2 separate regions of the Homo sapiens genome follow, and region 2 is linked to region 1. Evidence: fine-mapped expression QTL. A gene starts in region 1. The other region holds a variant in brackets. All regions are shown on one strand. Distances are between the middles of the regions. Region 1 holds the start of PRKCQ-AS1 (PRKCQ antisense RNA 1). Region 2 has its middle 18 kb from the start of LINC02648.

Region 1 (9,190 bases):
TGTGATCTGAGGCTTGCAACAAAGGCCTGGTGAATTCAATAGCAGTTTCCCTTTCCATTCTCTCCATTGTCCTGGGAACTTGTCCTGCTCTGATAACATACAAAAGATAATTATATCTGTAACTAATCTTCTAAAAAGCATCTGTCCCACACATTCAGGGTTATTAACACTGATGCCATGTTCACTTTATTCTCAACAACTACTCATTTCTGAATCATAAGGTTCCTCATGGAGGTGGAGATAACCCTACCTACCGGGACATTCTGTTTATGTTTTAGGGACTGTCCTTTCCATGGCTTCCCTAGTCCCTCAGGTGCTGTGTGAGTTGTATTTCCTCCATTAATTCTACACTAGAAAAAGGTGTATATGCTCAAGCTGGGATAGGAAATAAACAATGAACTCAGGAGTAGCATCAGCCCAGAGATCCCTGCCATTGGGCATTCAATGATTGGGTAAAAAGTTAACTATCAGCACCTTACACCAATTAGAAAGGCTACTATAAAGAAGATTTTTAAAAAAGCCCAGGTGCGGTGGCTCACGCCTGTAATCTCAGCACTTTGGGAGGCCAAGGTGGGTGGATCATGAGGTCAAGAGATCGAGACCATCTTGGCCAACATGGTGAAACCCCATCTCTACTAAAAATACAAAAGTTAGCTGGGTGTGGCAGCGCGTGCCTATAGTCCCAGCTACTCAGGAGGCTGAGGCAGGAGAATTGCTTGAACCTGGGAGGTAGAGGTTGCAGTGAGCTGAGATCATGCCACTGCACTCCAGCCTGGCGACACAGCGAGACTCCATCTCAAAAAACACAAAACAAAAGACAGCGTTGCTGAGAATGTGGAATAATTGGGACCCTTTCTACCACTGGTGGGAATGTAAAACGGTCCAGCCACTGTGGAAAACAATATGGCAGTTCCTCAAAAAATTAAACATAGAATTACCCTACGACCCCACAATTCTACTGCTGGGTACATACCCCAAAGAATTGAAAGCAGGACCTCAAACAGATATCTGCGTGTTCCTCTTCACGGCAGCATTATTCACAATAATCAAAAGATAGAAGCAACCATCAACAGATACAAGGATAAGCAAAATGTGGTATATCCATAAATGGAATAGTATTCAGACTTAAAAAGGAAGGAAGTCCTGTCCAATGCTGTCACATGGATACAGCTTGAGAACACTATGCTAAGTGAAATAAGACAGTTACAAAAGGATGGATACTGTATTCTGCTTCTGTGAGGTCCCTAGAGCAGTCAGAATCTTAGAGACAGGAAGTAGAAGGGTGGCTGCCAGGGGCTGAGAGGAAAGACGGATGAGGAACGAATGTTCCACGAGGACAGAGTTTCAGTTTTAGGAGATGAGAAGAATCCTGTGGATGGATGATGGCAATGGTTGCAAAACAATGTGAATATACTTAATGTCACTGAACTGTACGCTAGAAAATAGTTAAGAAGTTAAATTTTAAGTTATGTGTATTTTAACCACAATAAAAAAGTTAACTGGTAGGTCACCTGGGACTGCGGTTTAAAGCAAATGCTTGATGGTTAGACTAATCTGGATGGTCCAACTAACCTGACTCTACCACTGACTGGTTATAAGACCTGGACAAGGGGCTCTACCCCTTGAGCCTCAGTTTCCTCATCTGAAAAACTGGAATAATAATAATATCTAATTTATAAAGGCTTTTGGAGGTTAAATGAAGCAGTAATGCCTCTTACATATAAATAAAATTCTGAGTATGATATACAGCACATAAATTCTAAATAATAAAGACTCAAAACCATATTTCATTGGTTTTGTTGATGCTGATTATTATTATTATAATTAATACTATTAGCTTAATTCAAAAGCTAACATCAACCTACAGCAACCTGCAGAAAGATGTCCTGCCAAATACTTGCTAATTTAATCCAGGAGCAAAAATCTATGATTCTGGGCTTGAGTGAGCTTTCCTAATTTTAAAACTCTGATGCTCATTTTGTCCCCAAGAATGTGTTTAGATGACAGAGCAATCAGAATTTGACATGTATAAATGCTTGGCATGTTAAAATAATGAAAGATATTTTCACCATTGTAAGGAAACAGCTTTTAATCCATCTCTCTGGTTCAACATCACATTTTTCTATAGTTTCTCATGACTTCTTCCTTAACAATTGGAATAGGTATGAAAAAGCTGAGCTGAACACATAGCTGCTTAGAAATGAGCTGCTTAAAGTGTTAAAACAACAGAAACAGCAAGCATGAGTTTAATGCTATGTATGCCGTCACAATACTAATTTCTCTATTTTAAATTACAGATTACACACACACATACACACACACACGGAATCACGTCTATATTGCTGGGATTTTCATTATATAACAATATATCATTTTAAATGATTTGAGGCAAATTATTGAAAAAAATTAAAGACTGAACTCCATAAAAAGGAAATCACCTGAAATCAAATATAACCTTGTTAACAAACCAGCACATTAGCAACATTTTTAGGGGCAACAACATAATCAGCAACTCTAAGACATCAATCAAATGCATTAAAAACAGGAAGTACTAACTCTAATTCCTAATTTCCAGAAAGGCAAATATACCATAATTAAATAACACGTTATAAGGAGATTTGTCTGTGTAGGTCTACTTCTGAATCCCCGAAGTTACATACTTGTACCACAAGCCCATACTCTTGAAAGAAAATTCTGGACCCAGTCCACATGGAATTTTGGTTAAAACATCTAATTCATTGCAGAGAAGAATTTAGTCTTTTCCACGGAAGAGACAGCATGTGTTAGAATGAGAATACTTTATAGAAATGACCAGTGACAAGCCGGCTATGTAAGGGGGCTTCTGATGCCTGGCGTTAACAAGAGACAGAGAGTATTATTGTTGAAAGGGATCTTTGAGATTACAGAAGGAGCTGAGGTGTGAATAATCGAACACCATCCCCTTGTTGCCTGAAGGAGAAGTGAGACAGCAAAACAAATCAAATTTCCAGGAGCTGCACCGTGTATGGTGAGCGAAGACGCAATGAGGACATGTCTGTAGGAGAACAGAGGTAGAAGTTAGCTCCTCAAGTAACAGTTGCCATCCCGAGGCACCACAGCACAAGACAGTAGCGGAAATGAACATGACAACGCGGATGGTGGGTGACAAGAGTCTTGCCTGGATATTGACATTTTTAAAGTGTAGAAGAAAATCGCAGGTCACTGAAACAAAGGCTGATGGTGCCCAGCAGGTTACTCTTGAAATCAGAAACAGAAGTTCATGAGAGGCAAGAAGACAGAAACAACAACTGAAAAACTTAGAGTGGATCGCTAACTTGCAGGAGCTGTGCAGCTTTGGCTTTGCAGGTTTTAGAAGCTCTCCCTACGCCACGTCTTTAAATATATGTATGTTCAATCAGCAGGAGGAAGGGACTAACAAGAGCCTTCTGCGGTAAGCACCTGCATCAAACAATGGCACTGATCTCAGAGGGATTTTAAACAGCTGTGCATAAACTTCAAAAGTAATTTGCAACCATATTAGTAAATGTCACTCTTCTTCCCGCTAGACACAGCACTTTTAAAAGAGATTAAGCATCCGCAGTAAGCCTGCCATTTTACAAGGGTTACCAAAGATAAGTTAGGGAAAATATGAAGATGATGATTCACAAGGTCGGGGTGTGGGGTGGGGTGGGGGACCCAGGACCTTAGGAATAGGGCTTGTCTATCACACAGCCTCGGGCAAGAAGGGCCCAGTGGGGACCATGGCTTCTAGGGAGCAAACCAAGGGAAAAGAGCAACGGAGTGGACCCTCCAGGCTTCTTGCCTCTCTCACGGAGCCTCACGAATCCCAGTGGTTTAGAATTTTCTTTGGCAAAAGAAAAGGTCAAAGAGGCCGGAGTTGACAGAAAGCATGGGCGGACTTCTCAGATCTTGTAGGTGGTTCTTAAAAGAATTCAGCAGGCTTGAGGTGTGCTCTCAAAGGGCAACTGGAACGTCAAGGACTTGGACACCAGGCACAGATGGTTCATTTCCCATGGACAGGAAGAGGGCACGGAGTGCTCCCTCTTCCCTCCACCTTCTCCAGCCTAGTCCCCCTCAGCCTGTGCCACTCCTGAATCATCTTTTATAGCACCACGTCCAGCCCGCACAGGGGCAGGACAGCCCAGGGAACAAGGCAGTCCTGTGGCGCTCTCCTTGCAGAAATGACCGGAGTCTCCCAATCCAGCCAGCCCGTGGACCTCTCTTCATGCCCACGGGGGAGTGCACACGCCTGTAGCATTCAACAGTCACTCTCCCATTGATAACGGTGGCTCTCGAAAATCCAATACCACAAAGATACTTTATTGCACAAACTTTGCTTGGTTAACCTGGCCCTCAAAGCTGGGGAATAACCTCACTTGAGGCTACAGGAATGAGCACGCAGATTTTTCTTTTTTTTTTTTTTTTGGTATCTTTCAAAGACCTGCCTCCCCCTCCCCCAGGCCCTTGACCAGAAACTTGGCTTGTTTAGAAGCCTGAGCAATGGCACCCCCGTCCGTGCTCCAATACATTCCCAGAAAAGGGGTTATGCTCCCCTGTGGACAGGATACCATCTCCAGAAAACATGTTTCCTCACGCATTTTTTTTTTTTTTTTTTACCAAGAATACAAAAACTTTCCACCTTCTTCCCTCCCCGCAGGCCCCCTTTCGTTCAGGTGAGAAGGAAAAGGGAGAAGAAAGGAGGAAGCGCCCCCAGGCCGGCGGCCCCCACCCGGCTAAGGTCGCCAGCATCCCGCATCCCGTGCGACCTGCGTCCCAGAAACCCAGCGGGGAAATTCTTCCCGGTGCGCTCTTGCGCCCGCTTGGTTCCATTTCCTACTCCGCCTGCTCACCCGGCAGCCCTCACCCCTTCCCGGAGGCTCTCCGAGGGGCCCGGGTAGCCCTTCTCGCCACGGGTCTCGGCCCCTCCAGCCCGCTCCCTCCCGGCGGCGGCGCGGGGCGCGGGGCCCTACCTGGAGCGAGCACGGCGCCGCTGCTGCCCGGTGGCGCTGGGACTGCGCGGGGACTGCGCGGGGACTGCGCGGGGACTGGCGGGGCTGGCGGGGCTGGCGGGGCTGGCGGGGCTGGCGGGCCCGGCGCACTGCGGGTGCGCCTAGAAGGCGGTGCCCGCCAGGGGGCGCTCGCCAGCCTCCCCGCCAGCCCGGCCTCCCGGGACCCGGCACCTCTAGCCAGGGACGCGCGCTCGGTCCCCCGCCGTGCGCCCCCGGTCCCGCGCCCAGGCTCCCGCCCCTGGCCTCCTTACCAGCCACTTGTCGCCCAGCTGCGAACTGGAGCGGGAGGCGGCGGCCGGAGGGCCCAGGACAGCCCCGGGAGGGCGGCGAGGCGGAGCAGGAGCGCCCCGGCTCCGGCCACATTCTCAGAGTCAGGAAAAGGGGCGAGAGGCCACATGTCTCCCTCTCGCCCAACTGAAAACGAAACGGCGCTCCAGCAGATTGGGTGGAAAGAGCTGGGTCTCTTTTCTCTGTTTTTCACGCTAGAAAGGGCTTGTAAACATTGTTCCTTTTAAAATGACCTACCCCAGGCATTTGTTTGGGCACACTTCTGTCCTGGGGTCATCGTTCCTAGGTGGCTTCGGACCTGGGACTTTTCCTGTATCTGCACATTGTCGTTTTATACACAATTGCCAAGGTGGGACTGCTTTCAACTTTACTGTGCTTGAAGCTGCAAAGGTAATGTTGCCGCCGTGCGTGTCATTTTAGGACTTTTTATGCCTTGCGGGTAATACTAATGATGGTCACAGGGAGGATAAACGGGGTGGTTTCTTTTTCTATACTCCATGTAACTAATTTCTCATTCAGGTTAGAAAATTATATGTCTGGTTACTAATATTCTTACTGAATGGTTTCCTTGCAATGATGACACCAAATAATTAAAACGTACTTGATTAAGACTTTTGTTGCTGTAGTGTACTAAGATCAGATTAATCTGAGAAGTAAAATAGTAATTTTTTGTCCTTTTTTCTTTTCTTGTTTTGAGAGAGACATTAAAAACGATTAAAACAAAACAAAACAGGCCAGGTGCGGTGGCTCATGCCTGTAATGCCAGCACTTTGGGAGGCTGAGGCGGGTGGATCGCTTGAGGCTGGGAGTTTGAGACCAGCCTGGCCAACATGGCAAAATCGTGTCTCTCCTAAAAATACAAAAATTAGCTGGGTGTTGTGGCACGTGCCAGTAATCCCAGCTACTCAGAAGGCTGAGGCAGGAGAATCGTTTGAACCTGGGAGGAGGAGGTTGCAGTGAGCTGAGATCTCACCACTGCACTGCAGTCTGGGTGACAGCAAAACTCTGCCTCAAAAAAAAAAAAGGTTTAACAAAAGCCAAAAGTTGAATTAGCAGCCTTCTGATCATGGGAATGTAGGATGTCAACTAAAAAGAACCTCAGAGGTTGGGAAGGCAGATGAAAAACTGAGGCCCCGAAGTGTTTCAAGACTTGATTAAATCACTCAGGTCTGCACTAGGAAGCGAGTTATGATGATGCCCCTAATCTATATGAACCCAAATAAAGCCAAAACACACACACCTTTTAAGGATAAAACTATATTCCATTAAAATTAGCCCCGCATTTGTCAATATCTAACAGCATTGGACTGACCCTCAGGCCAGAGGCTGTAGCTCTTGGAAGATCCTAGCCAGGAGGTTTGAGAGTGGCCAGTACCTCGGAAGTGCTGGCTCACTCTGACATCATCAGAACCTGGCATACAGTAGGCGCTCATTGGGTATTTGCTATGGAAATTAGGCAGGAAAGTGCGTCTGTGTCTGGAAACAAAGAGGCAAAGCTTAAGCAGTGATCCCCATGCAGATTCTTTCTGCAAACTACAAAACAGAAGCTTCCCTAGTTCAGACTGCCATCCATCTGGCTCTTTCTCCAATTGTTTTTCAGCGGATCCTGTTACAGTGCAAAGAAGAAATGGCAAACGGATAACAGCTACTGTGCCTAGAAGATGGTAGATTCCTCACGCTCCATATCTGGGTTTCTCATTGACAATTAGGCACTGAAAGGAAGCTCATATGTCCTGTTAATTTAATCAGTAGTTAGTGGCTTTAGAAAAAGTTTCATATATACACCAGGTATGATAAGGACTTTTTTTTTTCTTTTTGAGACAGAGTCTTGCTGTGTTGCCCAGGATGGAGTGCAGCGGCGTGATCATAGCTCACTGCAGTTTTGATCCCCCAGGACTCAAGTTATCCTCTCACCTCAGCCTCCCAAATAGCTGGGACTACAGGCACACATCACCATGACCAAGCTAATATTTAAAAAGATTTTTTTGTAGAGACGGGGTCTCACTATGTTGCCCAGGCTGGTTTAAAACTCCTGGGCTCAAGTGATGCTCCTACCTCAGCTTCCCAAAATGCTGGGATTATCGGGGTGAGCCACCATGCCCAGCCTGTGATGACTTTAGACGCACTACTCATATAATATTCATAATCTGATGTGATATGTATCATCATCATTATCATCTCTCTTTAACAGAAGAGACTAACAAGGCTTAGAAAGGTTATGTACCTCGCTCAAGATCCCACAATTACTAAAGTACCAGAACCAAGATTCAAACCCAGGTCAGGCTGGAGCCACCATCTCAAGAGCTGCTGAATAATTAATTCTCCTTTTTTTTTTTTTTTTTTGAGATGGAGTCTTGTTCTGTCACCCAGGCTGGAGTGCAGTGGCACAATCTTGGCTCACTGCAACCTCTGCCTTCTGGATTCAAGTGATTCTTCCTGCCTCAGCCTCCTGAGTAGCTGGGATTACAGGCATGTGCCTGCCACCATGCTCAGTTAATTTTTGTATTGTTAGTAGAGACGGGTTTCACCATGTTGGCCAGGGTGGTCTCGAACTCCTGACATCAGGTGATCCGCCCACCTCAGCCTCCGAAAGTGCTGGGATTACAGGCATAAGCCACTGCGCCCAGCCAATTCTCCATTCTTACATCGTACACTCAGTTTTCTCTTTCTTTCTCTTTTGGACAACTGATCTTTGAGGACTCTTGGCTACTCAATTGTCCTATAATCGTATAGTCCTACAACAGGAAACCCGTTAACCTGAAGATCAGATCTTTTAAAACAACATCCATCATATATCTACAAAATTGGGATTTTTTTATCGTAAAATTTCATCTAAAACAAAAAATTCACATCTGTTCTTGGTATCCATTAGGTGTAGTGGACACCTCTAGATATTCTTGATGCCAGCATCCTGTAGACCCGCCATCTCCTTTCCCAGGCCATGGGGTGTTTCTGTTTTCTATTAGACACTGTCTCTTAGTTATATAAACGTGGCTGCTCTCAGAAGTTCTCCACACCTTTGTTTCCTGGAAGAGGAAATGGCATTTCCTGGAGGGGATGACACGTGGGCGGTGAGGTTCCACTCACTACGTTAAACACACCCTAACTTTCAGCTGTGTACTTCTTTTCCTCTTTCAGGTTCTGCCCTGATGTTTCCTGGAATAATGCTGAGGACTGCCTTTCGGGTAGCCGCCCTATTCAGTTCACTTCATCTCGGAAATACCTGACCCCTGCCTTGGATCCAGCGGCCCTCCTGAGAGCTGAGGAAGGAGGAAATCCTATGTGTCTGCTCCCGGAGCTGCCACAACCCATCTTCCCACAACTCGGAACTTGGAAAAAGGAACCCAGGACACGACTTTGCTTTTCTTTTGGACCTAGTTGGTGATTATACTCTGTCTCCCATGGAGACCACGTCTTGCATCCTTCCTTCTATATGGGATTTAGGATAGAAATTAAAAAGAAAACATATTATTTTGAGTCTTGATTTGGAGAAAGGTAGTATTCAGGAGGAAGTAGGCTATGATACACATAGAAAATTTGAGGACAGTGTTACTTAACAAGGACATTTCTGTCTCTGCAGAAGTCACAGCTTGGAGGAAACCAGTTTGCACTATTTGATGAGGAATTTGGCCACCAAACCACTGATACTTTCCCAAAGGTTTGGCAGAAATTGTTTTTTGAGTGGCTCACCAGAGTACCCAGAAGAATCAGTATGGAATTAGAGGACAGTGGCCTACCCTAAATAAAGACATGAGTGATGTATAAAGTCTAGTGTCAATTTATTCAGAAAATATCAAAATTATTCTGGGAGCTATGGGTCAAAGTTGATAGGCACAAACAAACAAAAACGAAAGGTATTTTAAATTCACAGCTTGGATAAGTAAAAGGGAGAT
Region 2 (10,485 bases), 21 kb after region 1:
TAAATTACCACCTGTTCCTGTTGATGAGTTTGCAGAGAAATTCACAGATGTTGCTGAAATTTTCAGCCTAGCCATGTTGGTTTTGAACAGTGACTGGTTTTGCTTTTTGTGAAGAAAACACTTGCTCGAACAGCATCCTTTGAAGGAGACACTGTAAGGTCAAAATTCTTTTGCTGGCTGCCTCAAGCTACTGAGTGAAATCACATTTCACTGTATACTTTTGTCCTCCTTTCTAACTGATAGAGACATGCCAACTGTGGGGAAATGGTAAATATGTTAGATTTTCTTCCATTTTCAGACAAAAACGACTCTTTAACTGAGGGTATTATGTTTCTGATGTGCTTTTTTAGTTGCTATTTTTATGTAGGTTAAAAAAAGACATTTGATGATGTCTCGTAAGTATTTTTCCAACTTATACAAAGCTTTTCATGTAATAAAAACATCATTACGACACTATCAAAGACAATGAGCTTATTAATGAGTGTCAGGGATTTTGCTAATTTTTGGAGTTTGTATCAGTTGTATGATCTCTGCCTTAAAAATCTGATTTAGTATTAAAATGCTTTTTTCAATAATTAGTTGTAGCAAATTTAAACTTGTGAGTTTATATATTTTTTTTCTCTTGGTACTATGATTCTGGAGTTGATGATGTAATAGAATCATAATGGTAATTTACTAAAAGCTTGAATCACTGAATCTCAAAGAATTAAACACCAAGCTGAATGGGAAAATCAAAATAAAAGTTACTGTGTATTTCAAGATTACTTGAGAGATTTTTTAAATGAGAAGCTAGAAAGCAGATATCTCAAGCGATTTAAGTAGAATTATGTGAAACAAATAAATAACTTTCAGTATACCATTTCTTTTTAAGTCAGAGAAGCAGAGAAACTAAATACATGGACATTGGATAGGCCATCTTTAAATGAGAAGTCAGAATTTATGTTTCCTAATGAAATTTAAAGATTTAATAGAGATATTTAAATTCCAACTAAAATTATTTCTGTAGGCAGAGCCTATCACAATTGCTGAAATTATAGCTAGGAAATTAGCAAATGCCCTATCATACAGTAATTTATCTTTCCATTTTTTTGATGATATGGAAAATGAAACTTTTTAATCTTTAAGTTTCCATTAATTGATTGCATATTATAGAACTTTTATAAATATGATTCTTACATTAGACTATGAGGTAGATATTATATCTTTGTTTTACAGAAAAGAAAATTGAGGATCAGAAAATACGCACAATTTGCAAAAACCATGGGTGAGTAGATGGCAGAGTGTAGATTTGAAAGCAGTGTTGACTTTAAGCCTGTGCCTCCAGTAACCTTCCCATGATACACAGTCACCATTCAAAGAATATTTGTTGAGGGAGTGATTTTTTTTAACAGGATTAAAAATATAAAACAAGAAGGAGGAGGTATGAGGCAGCTATCTAAATCCATCCTTCCGCTGCAGATTTTAAAGCCTTTTTCCTTTTCCATCTTGCCTGCCTAATTATTTTATCATTTTAACACATTGATATATTCAGTGACTAATCCTTTACTGCCTTGCAAATATGTTACAAGCATTTTCTAAGTCCTAGAATTGAAAAGTAATGATTACTTAAAAAAAAAAAATCAGTGACTTCATTCAGGAAAATCCACTGGTATCCAGGCCGGTGGATTCAGGCTCAGCAGTAAGGTCTTGCTTTTTGTCTTCTTTGCTTTCTTCTCTAAAACATTTTTTCAAATTGAGAAATTTTAAAAACCGTGTCTATTTATGGTGCACAATATGATGTTTTGAAATATGTGTACATTGTGGAATGGCTACATCAAGCTAATTAACATGTACATTACCTCAAACAGTTTTCATTTGTTTGTAGTGAGAATATTTAAAATCTCTGAGCAATTTTCAAGTATACGACACGTTGCTGTTAACCAGAATCACCATGTTGTAGAATGGATATATTGAACTTGTTCCTCCTGTCGAACTGAAATTTTGTATGGTTTAACAATCCCCTATTTCCCCCCCCACCTCCAGTCCTTGGTAACCACCATTCTACTCTCTGCATCTATGAGTTTGACGTCTTTATGTTCCACATCATGAGATGTTTTGAGATAATGTGGTATTGCTCTTCCTCTGCCGGCCTTATTTCACCCAGCATAATGTCCTCCAGGTTTATTCATGTTGTCAAGAATGATAGATTTTTCTTTTCTTTAAGGCTTTACTTATACCACATTTTCTTTGTCATTTATCCCTTGATGGACAGAGGTTATTCCATATCTTGGCTATTGTGAATATTGCTATAGGGAACATGGGAGTGCATATAGCTCTCTGACATCCCAATTTTTATTTTATTTCCCCTTCTTTTAAGCATTTCTTAAAGTTCTCACCTTCACCTTTTATTATTCGAAAGAATTGTGAGTAGCAGTTGTGTGGTTCAAGAGCACACTGCAGTCTTCCTTGTGTTCATCTATATTATCTGGGATATTTTGTTAGTTCTGGTCTGCAAGCTTCAAGGCTTATTGATAGTTTGAGTCACCAAATAGCCAATAAGACCTTATGGGTTATAGAATAAACATTCAGACTCCTTTTTCTGGTCTTTATCATCCTTCGTAGTATAGTCCCAGTCTATTTCTTTAAATTTATCTCCCTCTATTTCCATAAATATTCTCTATCCTAAACTCATTGCCTAATTAATTCTTGAACATGCCACATGCATTCCCATGCTGCACTTTTGCTAAAACCAATCCTCAGCCTGGAATTCCCTTTCTACTCCTCTGCCAATCCAATCCTTTTTTTGCACATCCAATTCAAGTTCCACCTCTTCCCTAAAGATAGTATTTTTTTCTTGGTGGCATTTATTTAGTTTTCAGAATATGCAATTTATATTATTATTATAGCTTTTGCTCTCAGATCTTTTTTGCTATAAAAATATTTATTTATTTTTATTGATACACCATAGCTGTACATATTTTTAGGGTACATGTAATAATTTGGTACATTCATATAATCAAATCAGGGTAATTGGGATGTCCAACATCTTAAATATTTATCTTTATGCTAGGAATGTTCAAATTATTATCTTCTAGTTATTTTGAAATGTGCAATCACTTCATGTTAATTATAATTAACCTACTGATGTATCAAACACCAGGTCTTATTTCTTCTAAGTGTGTGTTTGTACCTGATATGGTTTGGCTCTGTGTCTCTAGCCAAATCTCATGTAAAACTGCAATCCCCACAGGAAGGGCCTCATGAGAGGCAATTGAGTCATGGGGGCAGACTTCTCCCTTACTGTTCTCATGAGATCTGGTTGTTTAAAGGTGTGCAGCCCTTCCCCCTTCGCTCTCCTTCTTTTCTGCCACCATATGAAGACATGCCTGCTTCCCCTTCACCTTTCTGCCATGATTATAAGTTTCCTGAGGCCTCCCAGCCATGCCTCCTGTACAGCCTGTAGAACTGTGAGTCAATTAAACCCCCTTCCTTTATAAATTACCCAGTCTCAGGTAGTTCTTTATAGCAGTGTGAGAACGAACTAGTATAGTACCCATTAATCAACCTCTCTTCATCCCCTCAGCTCCCTACCCTCTTTTATCATTTATACTTTAGTCTCGCAAGTAGTTCTCTATTTTTGTCTCCTTGGTCATTCTCAACAGTACTTTTCAGACAGTACTCTGAAAAAAAAATCACCCAGAAAAGATTGTTGATATTGTTGTTGATAATGAGGATGAAACATTTGTCTTAATTTTTAAAGATGATGAACGAAAGATTGAACTTGGAGTTAAAACAAACACATTGTTTATTCTAAACTATACATAATGATAACAACTGTCAGCTAACTGAACCGCCTCCTCAGTGATATTGTATCAGTTGCTCCGCTGCTGATTGGAGTTGAAATCATTGTAAGGGATGGAAGACACCAGGAGGTAGAACTTAAGAGGTAGAACTCCCCATGAAACCTTCATTCATGGCTAACCCCAATAATTTAGCAGCGACTTTTCTTAGCTTGGATTTCCCCCCAAGAAAGCAGAACTTGAGATAAGAACTCTTATAGAAACAATTTACTTTGAGAAGTGATCTGAGAGAACAGGAATGGGGAACTGAGGAGAGTGAGGAGGGAAAGTGGGAATTCCAGCCGGTTTATAGATGCATTATTAGCTGGTTATGGCTGTGGGATCAACCCCAGGGAGGACTGTATTAGTCTGTTTTCACACTGCTGATAAAGATATACCTGAGACTGGGTAATTTATAAAGAAAAAGAGGTTTAATGGACTCACAGTTCCACGTGGCTGGAAAGGCCTCACAATCATGGTGGAGGGCAAAAGGCATGTCTTACATGGTGGCAGACAAGAGAGAATGAGAGCCAAACAAAAAGGGAAACCCCTTATAAAACCATCAGATCCTATGAGACTTATTCACTACCATGATTCAAGTATCTCCCACTGGGTCCCTCCCACAACACGTGGGAATTATGGGAGCTACAGTTCAAGATGAGATTTGGGTGGGGACACAGAGCCAAACCATATCAAGGGCAATCTGAGGAATGGTGTAGGATGTTCCTCAGCACTGTCCACCCAAGACACAGAAATGGAGTATTTCCCTGTTGGCTCTCAGCCCACTGGTCAAGGGCTGCCCCAGCAATTAGCCCACTGGCAGCATGGCTGGGCTGGTTCCTACAGAGATTCCTCACCACAGGAGCAGGACTGCCCCCAGATAGAAGGCAAAAGAGACAGCAGGAAACTGAAGTGAGGTGTTGTGAGGTTCACTTGTGCACAGGTGGTTCCTACAGCAGTGGCTGGAGCAAGACTGATGGGGCATAAATGCTGCCTGACACAATGTGCTTTCCCATAAGCTCATATAGGATCTCAGAATCCTTCTCAATGCAGCGCTCCTGGGAGCTATTATGAGCTCGTTGGAGTTGGCATATGCAAAATTAAGCAAACAATTTGCCAGCTCCAGAAGAGATGATTAAAAACAGTACTGGAGCAAGTTCTTGCATAAGCCTGTGTGAAAGTTACCAAGCATGGTTGATTGAACGGGTACTTTAAAACTTGTGGATTTCCTGTTTGGGTACTCAAGGGAGTCAGCACTAATTCTGGGAAGGTAGTGAAACATTGCCGTCTTTATACGACCAGGTAATGAAGCCAGGCCAGGGCGGTGGTCTTGCTAGGGGGACAGGTGCCATTCACAAGGAGGCTGCTGGTGCCTCAAGAGTCCCTTGCTGGATTCGCAGGCTCTGCATGGCAGCCACCTGAGAACACAGAGCATCTCAAGGGGTTTGAAGAGTTTGTGAGAATTGATTAAACATTTAAATTGGTGTTACATCCATTGATTAGATGTACATCAATTTACTCTCTTTATCCTTGGAATCTTTATCTCCCCAGTTAACACATACTACAAGCGTAGGCTACTAATTTCTTGATTACTCAGAGAAATTATCCAGTTGATAAATCGTATCTGTGAGAAATATAAAAGAGAAACAGATGAATAACAAAATTGATTATTCAGGATAACTAACATCTGTCCTCAAAAATAGTAGTTGAGATGCATGATGGGGTGTCCTTTAAATTAGTAGTCCCCAACCGTTTCAGCACCAGGGACTGGTTTCATGGAAGATAATTTTTCCATGGATGGGGTGGAGACAGGGATGGTTTCAGGATGATCCAAGTGCATTACATTTATTATGCACTTTATTTCTATTGTTATTACATTGTAATATATAATAAAATAATTCTACGACTCACCATAAAGTAGAATCAGTGGGAGCCCTGAGCTTGTTTTCCTGCAACTAGACAGCCCCATCTGGGGGTGATGGGAGACAGTGACAGATCATCAGGCCTTAGATTCTCATAAGAAGCTTACAACCCAGATCCTTCGCACACACAGTTCACGATAGGGTTCATGCTCCTGTGAGAATCTAATGCCATCACTGATCTGATAGGGGGCGAAGCTCAGATGGTAATGTGGGCCACGGAGAGCGGCTGTGAACACAGATGAAGTTTGGCTTGCTGGCCCGCCACTCACCTTCTGCTGTGAAGCCTGGTTTCTACCAGGCCATGGAATGCTACATGTCTGTAGGCCAGAGGTTAGGGATCCCTGCTTTAAATACTCATCAATGAGGTGTTTCAAAGAGAATTCGTCCCTGGAACTGTGTATTTGGTAACTAGCATAAGAAGACCTGCCGGTAGATTACAAGTTAATCCATAGCACAGCACAGAAGGAAGCCTTTAATTAGAGA[C/A]AGAGATATATTCAGCCACCGGTGTTGATCTTATCGTTCTGGGGAAAGCTCGTGGCAGTCACAAAATGTTGAAGACCCTGAGGCTGATGTGATGTGTGGCCAGATCTGCAAAATTGAGAGAAAACTTGAATATTTATTTATTTATTTATTTATTCTGAATTATCCTCATTGGTTTTTAAAAATGCACAGGTTTACTTTGAAAGCATTATTTGGCTTCCAGGCCAAATAGGAAAAAGGGGGCATTTTTTAACCTTGGTTTGGGTTTGGGGGCTTAGAGACAGTTTCTCTTTTAAGATATACAAACCTCCAATATACCTGCAAATAAGTGAGACCAAAACATTGTTTCTTCCTGTGAGTTGAAAAAAAATCTGGTGGGTTTACAGTGGGAGGAAATGATTTCTGGCTGCATGTGATGTAGGAAATGTGAAGACTGCTTCTGTACCCCATAACTGCTATGATTAAATAATGGCCTTTCTCTGCTTGGTTTTAAGATTTGGAGGTGACTTGATGATTTCAGTGTAGAAAAACAGTGCATAGTCTAAAAATGCTTATGGGAAAGTGGAAAAAGGCGTAGAGAAAATAAGAACAGTCTTAGTCACTAGAGAATCTGTGCAAACACGAGCTGCTTGGGGCTTCTCAGAGATGGCTACTTTTGTATCAATCACAAGGCTCCATATGCTCAATTTGTCAGAAACTCACCCAATCCCAGACTCATGCACATATGCACATCCCAGTTTCAATGTTTTATTACTTTATTTCATGTTAAGTGATTATTCTGCACAAATTTTCTCAGGAAGTAATTGTACACAATTCTAGGAGTTAAAGGTAGACATAAATAAGAGTAAAATCCTTTGATCTACAAGTGTTAATTAATTGTGCATAACTAAGCATTATCATGTGAAGATGGATGGAAGTTTCGTAGACCAGACATTTTTCATGCAGCTGTGATCAGTGAGTTTCTCCAGTAGCAAAGACAAACAATTTGTGTATGCAAACCAGTACAGCTAACAATGTCTTAATTGTTGTTATTTAAAAGAGGAGCAATTAATTAGCATTCATATAGCATACTAGCTTTCACTTAGTTAATTGTATAGATCCAAATTCCAAAATAAAAACAATGTGTATATGGCTCTCATTTGCCAAATTCAACATAAGCTGAGAATTTGTAAATTGAGAAGCTTGTCAGAGGGAATTCCCCTCTGGTGGGAATAATTCCTCTCTCACTAGTTAGTTCTCCCATTAGAGACCTTGACTATGGTGTAGAAATCTTTTTTCTCCATTTCTGAAATAAAATAGGAGAACTTTAAACAATAAGATAAAAGTAACTATGAAGAAAAATCCAACACACAAAAAGGTAACAATGGAGCACAATTCGAAGTTCAAATTCCTGATCCGCATAACATCTGAGCTGAGTTTGAATTGCCTCCCTCACTTGCCAAACAACTGGTCCTGCATTCTTCTCAAGGCTCTGACTCCCAGCTCATCTGCCAAGAAGTCTCTGGCATGTCCAGAGCTCACGAATGCAGCTGTTGGGCTTGGATTACCCTCACTGCATGATTTTCCAGATAGTCCCTTGGTGGTACTTCCTTGAGGAATCCCCACGGGAGTGGGCAGACACTGCGGATTGGTTTCAACTGCCTTCTTGGAGTAGAGGCTGGAATATTAAAAATGACATCTCCTAGATTCCCTTGCAGTTGGAGTTTGGGATGTGATTTAGGTTCTGCGAGCAGAAACATTTGCTCAGAACTTGGATTTGAGGTGGGCAACACACCTCCTTTCCATTGAAACGGATCCTAGTGAGCCGGCTTGGCACAGGGACCCTTGTGTGCAGAGGCAGGTTCATCCCTCAAGCAGCATATTCCCCGTGCCTGATTGCGGCAAAAGCAACCACTCTCTTGTCTGCCAGAGACTGCAGTATAATTTGAACGTTATTCCTAAAAGCACAGCCCAGAGTTTGTTTCTGCAGCGTTCGCAATGATTCTGGAAGGTGTTTACTAGCCTGTGATAAGAATCTCTTCTTACGTAAACTAGCCAGAGTGAAGTCTGTTCTTTGCCAGTAAACTTTTACCCTAATTGGTGTGATTATTCTCAAGAAAATGGGCAATCTGGATTGTCAATCTTATCAGATTACGTGTGAAAGCAACAAGGATATTTTGCCTTCAGAATATGGGTTACCTGTTTTTAACTGTGCCAGAAAGCTTAATTTAAAATAATATGATGAGCTCAGGGTTGAGATTTTCTTTTAAAGAAACAGGCAGAGGACCACAGCACTTCCCTGCGTGTGCTCATGTCTTGTAGGCATGGGGCTGATGCAGCTGGCAATCAGGCATGGTCTGTCCTCATGGGCTGCTGAATTACAGCACAGGTTCTGCCTTTCCAGCCTTCCCATTCTCGTGTGTGTGTGTGTGTGTGTGTGAAAATAGGACAATTCTGGGAAAGAGAGGATTGGAAAGAGGATGTTTGGGCAGATTCAAACCCCAGAGAGGCTTTGTCAGCCACAGAAGCAAGCCCTCCTCCCCTAAGGCTTAATGCAAACATCTCACCTGGGTGATTTCTAACAGGGATCACGCTTCTCACACAGGACCATTCTCTCATGGCCTCCAGACTCTTGATTTCTCTATCCCTCGTAACTCCAGAGCCATATCCCAGCAAGGCTCAGGGGGTAAATACGGTCTTACCTGGGAGGAGAATGCTTACAGACTCAATGAATTACAAGATGTTGCCAATGAATACCAGCAGAAACCAGAGAAGCATAGGTGAGAATGAATTTTTAAGGTCATAAACCAGGAAGAAAGGAACGCAATTTTAGGTGAGGCTGAATTTCTCAAATTAGGGGCACTTACCAGAGATTCTGGATTCAATGTACCAGCTCAAATAAGAGAGAGTGATTCTAAACGTTTTCTGGGAAGGTTGGCTGAAGCTTGCCCTCAGGAAGTAGCTGACCAGACTCAAGGACTCTGAGACTCCAGAGTGCCTCACGTTAAGGCAGAAGAGGGGACTAAAAGACTTCAGGAGCTGGGAGGACTTGAGTGGATCCTTCACACGGAAATTGCTCACTCACCTATATTAGGTCCGGATTGCTGCTGTAACAAAGTCACAAATGTAGTGGCTTAAGACAACACACATTTACTATGTGTCAGTTCTGGAGGTCAGAAGTCCTAAAATCAAGGTGTGGTCTGGGCTGTGTTCCTCCTGGGTACCCTGGGTTGCGGGAGTGGGGGAGCATCTATATCTATTTCTTGCCTTTTCCTGCTTTCTTTGACTCGTGTTGCCTTCCCCACCTTCAAAGCCAGCAGCATAGCATCTTCAAGTCCCTTTCTGTCTCTCTCTCTCCCATCTCTGCTCATCCCACTACATCTTCTTCTCTAACTCCAAAGCCCACTTCCTTCTTGTACATTGGGTCCACCCCAGTCATCCAGGATAATCACCCTATCTTTGCCCCAGTCATCCAGGATAATCACCCTATCTCCAGCGCCTTAACTTGATCACACCTGCAAAGACCCTTTTGCCATAAAAAATACATATCCACGGGTTCCGGGATTACAATAACATCTTTGGGGGACAATTATTTTTTTTCTATGACACCCTCTAATGATGTCCCCTAAGAGAGGCCAGATGGTTACTCCTTCATTAAGAGGTGGAGAAATCGGCCAACAAGGGGAAGGGGAGGGTCTTTACAGAGTGCTGAGGGGTGGGCCTCTGCACTGACGGGCAGAGGTGGGAATACTGTAGCTCAGAAGGGTCCTGAAGTCCCAGGGTGGCAGAGCTAGAGACAGAACCAAAGCGAGCATGGCGACCAGGAGTTTTGTTTTTGTTTTTGTTTCTTGAGATGGAGTCTCGCTCTGTCGCCCAGGCTGGAGTGGAGTGGCGCAATCTTGGCTCGCTGCAAGCTCCGCCTCCCAGGTTCACGCCATTCTCCTGTCTCAGCCTCCCAAGCAGCTGGGACTACAGGCGCCCGCCACCACACCTGGCAATTTTTTGTATTTTTAGTGGAGACGGGGTTTCACCATGTTAGCCAGGATGGTCTCGATCTCATGATCTCGTGATCCACCCGCCTCAGCCTCCCAAAGTGCTGGGATTACAGGCGTGAGCCACCGCGCCCGGCTGGTGACCAGAAGTTTCTGAGGAACCAAAAAGTTTCTTGGGCAACAGCCTATTTGCAGAGATGAGCATAAGGTACATAGATATGACCTAGATCTCAGAAATACGCTCAAGAGACAAAACTACCCTTGGCTGTTGGGAGAGAGAGAGGCAAAGTTCTG

Evidence for each region. PIP is the estimated chance that this variant, and not a neighbour inherited with it, causes the effect.
Region 2: its variant is fine-mapped to the expression of PRKCQ-AS1 in whole blood (INTERVAL, PIP 0.94).

Annotation. Positions count from the first base shown.
Region 1 is chr10:6,575,241-6,584,430 of GRCh38, forward strand. It overlaps PRKCQ-AS1 (PRKCQ antisense RNA 1), which reads left to right and starts at 5,185. Exons shown (of 2, transcript NR_036503.1): 1 at 5,185-5,687; 2 at 8,436-9,190. PRKCQ (protein kinase C theta) reads right to left here and starts at 5,036. Exons shown (of 18, transcript NM_006257.5): 1 at 4,971-5,036. RefSeq lists silencers at 5,038-5,287, 5,298-5,447 and an enhancer at 8,247-8,541.
Region 2 is chr10:6,595,631-6,606,115 of GRCh38, forward strand. No RefSeq gene overlaps it. Among named protein-coding and RNA genes, the nearest start is that of LINC02648, 18 kb to the right of the region's middle. The variant C/A (reference allele first, on the strand shown) is at 6,224.